Homo sapiens: one gene and its partners. The protein of the gene in region 1 interacts with the protein of each later gene in a pairwise test. Each region holds a gene or a part of one and is shown in the gene's direction. Other genes may lie near its edges.

Region 1 (3,751 bases):
TGTCATGGCTCACTGCAGCCTTCACCTCTTGAGCTCAAGCGATCCTCCCACCTCAGCCCCACAATAGCTGTGACTAGACGCGCGTCATCACTCTTGGCTAATTTTTTTGGTATCTTTTGTAGAGATGGGTTTTTGCCGTGTTACCCAGGTTGGTCTCAAACTCTTGGGCTCAAGCAATCTGCCCACCTCAGCCTCCCAAAGTGTTGGGTTTATAGGCATGAGCCACCCCACCTGGCCATTCATTTTCTTAAGCTTCCTAAGTTATGACTATAGGGGAAGGAACTATGTGCTGAGCTCCTGAAGTTTCCCTGGAAATACGATTAAGCCACCTGTGACCACCCTCCTGGGTGACATGACTTAGGCAGACTTTGCCCACCTGAGAGCACTTCCTTTCTTGGCCATGCTTGGCTGTCGTCTGGATTTCTGATGGGTCTGGTCTCCTTCTCAGCATTGCCTATGCCTTTCTCACCCTCTGCAGGTTCATGGAGTTTGAGGCTGAGGAGATGCAGATTCAGAACACACAGCTGATGAATGGGTCTCAGGGCCTGTCTCCTGCAACCCCTTTGAAACTTGATCCTCTAGGGCCCCTGGCCTCTGAGGTTTGCCAGCAGCCAGGTGAGGCTACCCAATTTTGACAGGAGCCGTGGGCCAAAGGCTCAAAGGGATGCATACAGAAGCCAGTCACAGATTAGAGAAGGCATAGCCCAGGCTCTGCCACTTTCCCTCTGGAGAGTGGCATTTGATATTCCAAACAGACCACCCCATAGGAGGCTGGGTTCTCAGGTTCCTTTTGCCCTGAACTAGGTATTGATCTTGGTGAAGTAAACTGACTACTCTCACCGAGACTCTAAATTCAGCACATAATACCTCATCTGCCTAAGAAATGGGGACTGGATTAGGGGGTTTCTTGGAATCTCAGGGATTCCAAAATTCCTCATACAGTGATTCTTAGACCCTCTAGGTCCTAAATCTCCCATGGCTGGCGCTTTTTCAGGTTGGCCCAATCCAGCCTGGAACCATTTCAATGTACCCAGATTGCTGAGCTTACAGAGCTGGGAGGCAGAAGCTGTGGTTTCTGTGCTACTTCCCATTCTCCTGTCCATCTCTTACCTTAGTGTACATTCCGAAGGAGGCAGAATCTGTGGTTTCTGTGCTACTTCCCATTCTCCTGTCCATCTCTTCCCTTAGTGTACATTCCGAAGAAGGCAGCCTCCAAGACACGGGCCCCCCGCCGGCGTCAGCGTAAAGCCCAGAGACCTCCTGCTCCTGAGGCACCCAAGGAGATCCCACCAGAAGCTGTGAAGGAGTATGTTGACATCATGGAATGGCTGGTGGGGACTCACTTGGCCACTGGGGAGTCAGATGGAAAACAAGAGGAAGAAGGGCAGCAGCAGGAGGAGGAAGGGATGTATCCAGATCCAGGTCTCCTGAGCTACATCAATGAGCTGTGTTCTCAGAAGGTCTTTGTCTCCAAGGTGAGCTGGGCCTGCACATCTTGTTTCTAGCAGATCCTTGGGGTGGGTACTCCCGGGAACTAATGATCTGGGGTTTGTCCAATGCAGTAGGACTTAGGTTTTATTCTATAACTGAGTAATGTGTGTGCATGCATCATCATGAGAATGTGTGTAGCCGGTGGTGGTCAGTTTACAATACCGGAGGGGTAAGAGGGGAGAGTTGGGGAGCTCTTAGTTTCTTCTGTAAAGCCCCTTGTTTCACAGGTTACCTGCTTACAGACTTACATCGCTTTTCCTTCTGTTATCCAGGTGGAGGCTGTCATTCACCCTCAATTTCTGGCAGATCTGCTGTCCCCAGAAAAACAGAGAGATCCCTTGGCCTTAATTGAGGAGCTAGAGCAAGAAGAAGGACTCACTCTTGCCCAGGTAAAACTGGGGTATAGGAAATATGAGAACGAGAAGCTTGCAAGATTTTATCTAACCCTACACTGTCGTGGGTGATATGGCTCTAGAGATGAACAGCTTCAGGATTGGGCTTCAGGTGCAGAACGAGTAGGTAGAGGGCTATGGAAACACAGGAAATGAGAATGTAAGGGCTCAAAGCATGGGAATAAGGCACAAGAAGGTGGGAAAGAGCTGCAGTATCTGTCTTTGCTACCATCGCTTAAACTACTTGCTTGCCTTCCTTGCCCTGCCCAAATACCGTCTTGTGCCACCCACTCAGCCACCTCTTTCACAACCACGTATAGAACTGACTATTTGTTCATTTCTTTCAGCTGGTCCAGAAGCGACTCATGGCCTTGGAAGAGGAGGAAGATGCAGAGGCGCCTCCAAGTTTCAGTGGCGCTCAGTTGGACTCAAGTCCTTCTGGTTCTGTTGAGGATGAAGATGGGGATGGGCGGCTTCGGCCCTCACCTGGGCTTCAGGGGGCTGGGGGCGCCGCTTGCCTTGGAAAGGTTTCTTCTTCAGGAAAACGGGCAAGAGAAGTGCATGGTGGGCAGGAGCAAGCCCTAGATAGCCCCAGAGGGATGCACAGGGATGGGAACACTCTGCCATCCCCCAGCAGCTGGGACCTGCAGCCAGAACTTGCAGCTCCACAGGGAACTCCGGGACCCTTGGGTGTGGAGAGGAGAGGGTCTGGGAAGGTTATAAACCAGGTATCTCTACATCAGGATGGCCATCTAGGAGGCGCTGGGCCTCCTGGGCACTGCCTGGTGGCTGATAGGACTTCAGAGGCTCTGCCCCTTTGTTGGCAGGGAGGCTTCCAGCCTGAGAGCACTCCCAGTTTGGATGCTGGACTTGCAGAGCTGGCTCCTCTGCAAGGACAAGGGTTAGAAAAGCAAGTCCTGGGATTGCAGAAAGGACAACAAACAGGGGGTCGTGGAGTGCTTCCTCAAGGGAAGGAGCCTTTAGCAGTGCCCTGGGAAGGCTCTTCAGGAGCCATGTGGGGAGATGACAGAGGTACCCCCATGGCTCAGAGTTATGATCAGAATCCTTCCCCTAGAGCAGCTGGGGAGAGGGACGATGTCTGTCTCAGCCCAGGAGTTTGGCTGAGCAGTGAGATGGATGCTGTAGGCTTGGAGCTGCCTGTACAAATAGAGGAGGTCATAGAGAGCTTCCAAGTTGAGAAGTGTGTAACTGAGTATCAGGAAGGCTGCCAGGGACTGGGCTCCAGGGGCAACATTTCCCTGGGTCCTGGAGAAACCCTAGTACCTGGGGATACGGAGAGCAGTGTGATTCCCTGTGGAGGCACAGTTGCGGCAGCTGCCCTAGAAAAGAGAAACTATTGCAGCTTGCCAGGACCTTTGAGGGCCAACAGCCCACCCTTGAGGTCCAAAGAAAATCAAGAACAGAGCTGTGAAACCGTAGGGCATCCCAGTGATCTGTGGGCAGAAGGTTGCTTCCCATTGCTAGAAAGTGGTGATTCCACACTGGGGTCTTCCAAAGAAACCCTTCCACCCACATGCCAAGGCAATCTCCTTATCATGGGGACTGAGGATGCCTCCTCCTTGCCTGAAGCCAGTCAAGAGGCAGGGAGCAGAGGCAATTCCTTTTCTCCTCTGTTGGAAACCATAGAACCTGTCAACATACTAGATGTTAAAGATGACTGTGGCCTCCAACTAAGGGTCAGCGAGGACACCTGCCCACTGAATGTTCATTCTTATGACCCCCAAGGAGAAGGCAGGGTGGATCCTGATCTGTCCAAGCCTAAAAACCTTGCTCCTTTACAAGAGAGTCAGGAGTCTTACACAACTGGGACTCCCAAAGCAACATCTTCTCACCAGGGCCTTGGAAGC
Region 2 (3,751 bases), on another chromosome or scaffold:
GAAAAAAAAACAAAGGCTATATGTAATCTTTCTCCATATTGGGATATTATAGGTGGAACGAGAACTTTGTTCAGCCACAGCTGAATTTGAGGATTTCGTCTTACAGTTTATGGACAGGTGAGCTTGTAACCCACACCAACGTTTAGCTGAAATTCTAGAAAATGACTCTTCTATCCCAGAAAGTTTAGTTTATTTCTGCATTATAACCTTTATTTAGCTACTACTGGTGCTCCTGAAGTTATAAAAGGATAATCGATTTGTGAACCACGTAGAAATTAAGTAGCTATCACTTGAATAATTAGGACAATAGAGAGTTACCTGATGACCACCAAAAATGTCAAACCAGATTTTAGTTGCTGAAATTATGCTTTGTTTGGATTATTTAGATGTTTTGGACTTATAGAAAGTAGCACATTGGAGCAAACAAGAGAAGAGACAGAAACTGAGAAAATGACACACTTGGAGAGTTTGGTCGAATTAGGTCTGTCTTCTACGTTTAGTACAATCCTCACCCAATGTTCCAAAGAAATATTTATGGTAAGAACATTGCTGCAAAAAATAAACTTCCAGCTTTTAAGTTTCATTTGATGTTTTAAAATTGACTTCAAGTTACTTTGTGTATATCATGCAGTTTATCATTTACATTCATACTAAAGTTTTAAAGAAATGTACAGTTGCTCATTATTTGCAAATTTCGTATTTGCAAATTTACCTGTTTGCTCTAACTATTTGCAACCTGAGAATCAAGCTTTTGCGACTGACAAAAATTCAGTTACTTAAATTTGATCTCACATATGCCATGTGTTCTCAGCTGAGAGCAAACGAGGCACTCTGCCGTCTTATATCCAGCTCCACTTAAACAACTGTCCCCTTTGCGATCTATTTAATGCCACTTTTTTACATTTTTTTGCTTCTTATTGGTGATTCTGCTGTTTAAAAATGTCAAAAATGGCTCCCAAGAGTTTATTGTTTAAAGTGGTTGAGGGTTCCTAAGCATAAGAGAGTTGTGCTGTGCCTAATGGAAAAAACACTGTGCTAGGTAAGCGTCAACAGGCATGAGTTATGTTGCTGTTGACTGCGGATTAAATGTTAGTGAATCAACAATATGTATTAAATAAGTTGTCTGTAAACAGAATCACACTTAGGATTATGTATTGATCAGTTGATGAAAATGTTGTCACCATAGGTTCACAGGAACATAATCCTGTATTTCCCCTGGGAGCAATGGTTCAGTATTTGCTAGTTCAGTGGTCACAGCAAATTTATAGAACATGACTACCATGAACAACAAGAAACAACTGTCGCAGGGGGGATAGCATTAGGAGAGATACCTAATGTAAGTGACGAGTTAATGGGTGCAGCACAGGAACATGGCACATGTATACATATGTAACAAACCTGCATGTTGTGCACATGTACCCTAGAACTTAAAGTATAATAAATAAAAAAAAGAAACAACTGTATTTTTTAATTTTACAATTAAAAACAGTTACTCAGCTGAGTTTTAGAAATTGCTTATGACATCACTCCCATGATAGAAATTAAATCCTAAGACTAACTGATGGATTAGAAGTAGTTATCTTCATAAGACATTCAGTAAGCATTCACTAATTCAATATTGGTTGGTACCTATTATTTGTAATGTGGTACCTATTATCTGTAGCCTTTAAGACTACACTTTATTTTCATTTCTGTTTCTTCTCCCATCATCTGTAATTATCACTGTTAAATATGTTAATCCTAGAAGCCAAACTGCCTTATAGCTGTGTGAAATAAATACTATGATTATGTTAGTATAAAGAAATGAACACAAATCATCTCTTATTTAACCAAAAAGAGTTGTTTATACTTTTCAGTATTGTTAACCCAGGTATAGAACTCATTCTTCCATTGAGCAAGTAAATTAAAGTTTTGTGACATGACTGTAAAATAAACAGACTGCTTCAGTTCTTTTAGGGTAAGGATAGATGTCTAGTTTGTAGTTGTCAGGATGACAAATTGTATTAGGTATTCCAAAAAATTCCCTTTGTTATATTCAATTAGCCAGAAAGACAATTAAATTGCATTTGCTTCCACCAGGTATAATTTTATGTGTAGGGTTTCTGTGGCAAGTGAAATCTTGTACCTCAATTTTTTTTTTTTTTTTTTTTTTTTTTTTTTTTGTTAACTCTGTCACCTGGGCTGGAGTGCAGTGTCGCGATCTCGGCTCACTGCAACCTCCACCTCCCGGGTTCAAGCAATTCGCATGCCTCAGCCTCCCGAGCAGCTGGGACTACAGGCATGCGCCACCATGCCTGGTCAATTTTTGCATTTTTAGTGGAGACAGGGTTTCGCCATGTTGGCCAGGCTGGTCTTGAGCTCCTGATGTCAAGTGATGCTCCTGCCTCAGCCTCCCAAAGTGCTAAAATTACAGGTGTGAGCCACCACATCCAGCCAGTACCTAAAATATTTTGTTCAAGTTAGGATCGTGGGCAAAGATTGTTCTTAGACCTGAATGTAACATCATTAAACAAATTCTTATAAAATCAGATGGTTAAAAATTGCCTATGGGCTTATTTTTGGAATTGTCTAAATATATTTATCATTTTCTTTTATGTTCTGTAAGATGTTTAATTTTCTTAAAAAATGCTCATTAAACATTTTCATATCTTAACAGGTGGCCCTTCAGAAGGTTTTTAATTTTTCTACTTCACATATATTTGAAACAAGAGTAGCAGGTCGCATGGTGGCAGACATGTGCCGCGCTGCTGTAAAGGTGAGTTTATTTTTTTGAACTGATGTATTAATGACTCAACAATCAACTAGTTTATATGGTTAATTATTAGAGGTGCTTCTATGCTTAAAATGCATAGTTCTTTCAGTAGCTGCTTATTTACAGCCTTTTACTGCCACTGAAAATATAATCTTGTATATATTTGCCTTTCAAAAAAGCCTTACTTATACAAATACATTTTCAGTGCTGCCCAGAAGAATCTTTGAAGCTCTTTGTTCCCCACTGCTGCAGTGTTATAACTCAGCTTACAATGAGTAAGTCATAAGGTCATTATTCTCTCTTTACAATTTTGGATAAGTTTTTTTCTTGGTTTCTAAAACTCTGTTAATGACAACAGATTCCTTTAGCTTCACAATATTTTGATTGGCAATTTGGGGAAAATTTGTCTCCAAAAAAGATATCATCCAGGTTGGCAGTAGCTTAAAAATGTTACTTTATTAATATTCTTATACAACCACCATTCAGAGGTTACCTTCAAAAATATCAGTTATTTTGTGAGATATAGAGGGGCAGAAGTCTTGGTTGGTGTGTTTATTTTCTTGAAAATTCTGTTTCTACCTCCTTTTGGAACAAGCTCAGCTTCATGAAGAAGAAATAAAAAGTCTTCCTAAAAGAGGTTTTCCTCAGCTATTGGAAATATTAAATAGAAGTATTTTAAAATGCTATATTTAGTTGAATGCATAGGTTTTTCCCCCTAATAGTATTTTGCTGTTTTTAGATGATGATGTATTAAATGATGAAGAGCTAGACAAGGAATTACTATGGAATCTTCAACTTTTGTCTGAGGTATTGTAAATCTTTGGAATAAGAAACATGACTGTGAAAACACTGACTTGCTTTTAGGATTTAGCTCTTTCTGACAAAATGACTTTAAAACATATGAAAAGTCAGAGTTTTGGAAATTTGATGAGGCTTCAGAAGATCAGAATATGTCATACTCTTATTGTCAAAGGAGTGGTGTAGTTGATCACTGCATGT
Region 3 (3,751 bases), on another chromosome or scaffold:
TTAGATACTACAATGAGATACAAAATCACTATTTTGTTTTAATATTTATAAAGTATTTCATGTAGGACTTTATAATTGCATGTATACAAAACTTTTTAATGAATCCATTTAGTAACATTATTCCCTTCTGATAATTAGCAAACAATAGGATAAGGAAGTAGCTGTGTATCTACAAACACATGAGTAATTAGTGGTACAAACAAAATTATAATCCAACCCTTCTTTATTTATTTGCACTTGATCTATTAAAATCTTTGCTATCCACTCAAATTTTGTGCTTTTATAGGTGGATAATAGAACATGGCAAGTTGAGATTCCCAGTTTTATTTCCGGCTTTGCAATATTTTCACTGGGGTTTGGGCTTATAATTTCCATTCTCCAAAACTTCACTTCTTCTCTTGTTAAAACAGAATGGTAATTTCTGCCCCTTCCTTTCCTCCTTTGCCAGGGTGATGGTTGTGGTTAGAAGCACACTGGGCTCCTCAGAGAAAGATGCTTTGGGAGCATTAGAACAATTCAGCATCTCCTTCTGAGATGCATTGAGAGTCATGCAAAGAGGCCAGCAGGCCACGGGTAGCTCTGCCAATGCATGGGGCATCTTGCAGCCAAAGTGGGTACAAACAGGTGGGCACAAACAAGACACAAGATTTATTGGGTTTCCCAAGGGCCCTGTGGGAATCCAGTCTAGAGCCAAAGTCTAGAGTCCCTCTGCGCCATACTTCTTTGCTCTGGGTCTAGGCCAGTTAGGAGATTTGAAAGATCTAGTGGAGCCAAGAATGAATTAGCTTCCAATTCTCTGGGGAAGAATAGGTTGGGTCCTTTTGCAATAGGCTTTGGCTTTCTGGACTTCTCTTTCATTGCACTTATCATATTTTGTTGTAAGTGATAATTTAATGTCCTTTTTCTCCATTAGACTCTAAACTCTGAGAGGTCAACCTGTAGCACAGTATCTGGTACATAGTAGATGTTCACTGAAGATTTACTGAATGGATGGGTGAAAGAATGAATGAATGAATGAGGCTTCATCTTCGCCATATATACCATCACAGTATCCCAGAGCAGCCATCTTCATGATCCCTTGGCCTAAGAGTTTTAAGTTCCACTTTGCTTCCCAAAACCCTTTGCACCTTCAGATCTACCAGGATCAAGTCAGTCTTTTAAAAAAATACCAGGTAGTCTTCTGGGAGTGAGGGCCTTGCATCCTCCTGTGTGTTGACATGAGGAGTTATTCAGGAGATCCACTTGCCCATCCTGTGCAGCAGTGAAGCTGGAGGAAACCTTGGTGGCACTCCCTGGGGCCAGTATTTGTTAATCCCTATTTTATATTCCCTGCTCTGATTTCTTCCAGGCCCAGATAATAAGAGGATGGCCAGGAATGTCTTGAAATATGAAAGGCTCTTGGCAGAGAGCCCCAACCACGTGGTAGCTGAGGCTGTCATCCAGAGGCCCAATATACCCCACCTGCAGACCAGAGACACCTACGAGGGGCTATGTCAGACCCTGGGTTCCCAGGTAGGATTCCTCAGGGAAAGAGAAAGGGGGAGAGGCCTGGCTAGAGTTTGAGAAGCTAGAATTGGGATAACATGAGGGGATAGAGCTGATGCATTAAAAACAATAAAGCTCACTTGGGCAGCATCAGAGTGACCACATTCTGTATCTCTTGCATTCCAATTTTTTTATGCCATAGTTCCCCTAAGTTGAGTTTTGCTCCTAGACCCTTCTTCTCTTATGCTCATCCTATTCTTTCCTTCCAGCCCACTCTCTACCAGATCCCTAGCCTCTACTGTTCCTATGAGACCAATTCCAACGCCTACCTGCTGCTCCAGCCCATCCGGAAGGAGGTCATCCACCTGGAGCCCTACATTGCTCTCTACCATGACTTCGTCAGTGACTCAGAGGCTCAGAAAATTAGAGAACTTGCAGAACCATGGGTGAGTGTCCTGAGAACCCGCCAAGAATTTCTCTTTCATCTTCACATGCCTGGAGTTCAGGAGTGTAAGAATAGGCAACCTGAACAACTAGACACCTCAAAGAGCCAAGGAGTTCAGAATGCCAACCATTCCATAAAACTAGTCCATGGTGGAAAAAAATCACAATAGTGCTTGCCTCTAGAGGGAAAGGATTAACTGGATGATGTACAAGAGGATTCTCTGGGGTATTGAAAATGTGCTCTCAATATCTTGTTAGGGACGTGGTACATGTGGCTGTATGCATTTGTCAAAACTCACCAAATGGTCCACTTGAGACCTGTGTATATCATTGTATGTAAGTTTAACCTAAAAAAAGACAAATAAAAAAGAACACTTCAAAAGTGTCAACCATTCTATGTAATTGGTAGAGGTGGGGAAAAGGGTGAAATGACAGCGGCAAGGAGTAAAATCCTAGCACAAATTTACAGAGTTAGAGTAGAAAGCTAAACTTCATTATTTTGTTAAAAAGGAAACCGAGGCCCAGAGAGGGGAAGGGACTTGTTAAGCTCATACATGTAGCTAGAGCCACAGCTAGAACTTAGAGGTACAGTAGTCCCCCTTATTTGCAATTTTACTTTCTGTGGTTTCAGTTATTCTCAGTGTAGTACAATAAGATATTTTGAGAGAGAGAGGTCATTTTCCCATAATTTTATTACAGTATATTATTATTATTATATTTTATTGTTAATCTCTGTGCCTCATTTATGAATTATAAATTATAACATATAATTATAAATTAAACTTTGTAATTCAGTTACAATCATTATTATAATTTCGTTATAAAAAGAACCAAAGGAGGCCAGAATGATCAGGGCTAGCGGGCCCAACGAAGGTGCAGGGCTTCAACTGAGTCTCCAAAGATGGGCAGAATGTGGCGAGAAGTGTTGAGTGAGTGTGCTTTGGGAAAGGGACAGTGACTAGGAAGCAGATATTCAACACAAGCCACTGAGGCATCTGTCTTCAGTTTCCATGGGGGAGCCACTACCATGTGAGCCCAGGGCTGATTCCTGGGAGAGCCACAAACCAGACAGGCATCAGCAGCCCCAGAGAGATGCTTCTAGGGGAAGGAAGTGTGCCAAGGTCTGTGCATGCCAAATGGACGACACGGCCATGAATGACTAAATAGACATCTCTGGGTGGGTCACTTCTCCCATTACCATGGCAACAGGGCTGTTTTAAGGAAAAATTTAGTTATAATGTAATTATGATTATAATTAAATTACAATCATGATTAAATTAAATTACAATCATGATTAGATTAAATTTTGATTGAAGCCATCCCACTGTCTTCACTTGGAGACCCAGCCTGACAGAGCAGCCTCTGTATGGGACATTGCCAGTCTCATGGAAGAGGAAAAAGACAAATGGCAAACATGAGCTGGTTCATAAAGCTTCTGCATGGAAGTGCCAGATGTTACTTCCACCCATGTTTCACTGGTCAGAGCAAAGCATGTGGGCACTACTGCAGTTAACAGCAAGGTTCTAATTCTTCCACAGGGAAAGCACTGCAAGTCACCAAGCCAAGCTGGATGTCAATGGGAAGAGGACATTTAATCCTCCCCCTAGGAAGTGTGCTAAATATTAACAAGAAAAAATGCACCTCTATAAGCATGTTGCCTCTTTAAAGATATTGTCTCAGAATTATTTCTGTCAAGCCAGACATTGTGCCCTTAACATGTGCAGTTCATCCAGGCAGCCATTAGTCATTCGTCAACAGAATAGAGCCCACTGTGTGCCAGACACTGGCCTGGGTGCTGGGCTTTTACAGTGAGATGAAGTAT

Evidence for each region.
Region 2: the proteins of NUTM1 (region 1) and PSME4 interact in binary tests that used the Homo sapiens proteins (3 or more experiments, as listed by UniProt).
Region 3: the proteins of NUTM1 (region 1) and P4HA3 interact in binary tests that used the Homo sapiens proteins (3 or more experiments, as listed by UniProt).

The regions. Positions count from the first base shown.
Region 1 is NC_000015.10:34,353,258-34,357,008, forward strand, and holds part of NUTM1 (NUT family member 1), read left to right. Parts: intron 1-478; coding exon 479-615; intron 616-1,188; coding exon 1,189-1,475; intron 1,476-1,763; coding exon 1,764-1,880; intron 1,881-2,230; coding exon 2,231-3,751. UniProt on the Homo sapiens protein: Plays a role in the regulation of proliferation. Regulates TERT expression by modulating SP1 binding to TERT promoter binding sites.
Region 2 is NC_000002.12:53,922,325-53,926,075, reverse strand, and holds part of PSME4 (proteasome activator complex subunit 4), read left to right. Parts: intron 1-52; coding exon 53-117; intron 118-386; coding exon 387-537; intron 538-2,656; coding exon 2,657-2,755; intron 2,756-2,957; coding exon 2,958-3,027; intron 3,028-3,491; coding exon 3,492-3,559; intron 3,560-3,751. UniProt on the Homo sapiens protein: Associated component of the proteasome that specifically recognizes acetylated histones and promotes ATP- and ubiquitin-independent degradation of core histones during spermatogenesis and DNA damage response.
Region 3 is NC_000011.10:74,283,989-74,287,739, reverse strand, and holds part of P4HA3 (prolyl 4-hydroxylase subunit alpha-3 isoform 1 precursor), read left to right. Parts: intron 1-1,348; coding exon 1,349-1,512; intron 1,513-1,754; coding exon 1,755-1,931; intron 1,932-3,751. UniProt on the Homo sapiens protein: Catalyzes the post-translational formation of 4-hydroxyproline in -Xaa-Pro-Gly- sequences in collagens and other proteins.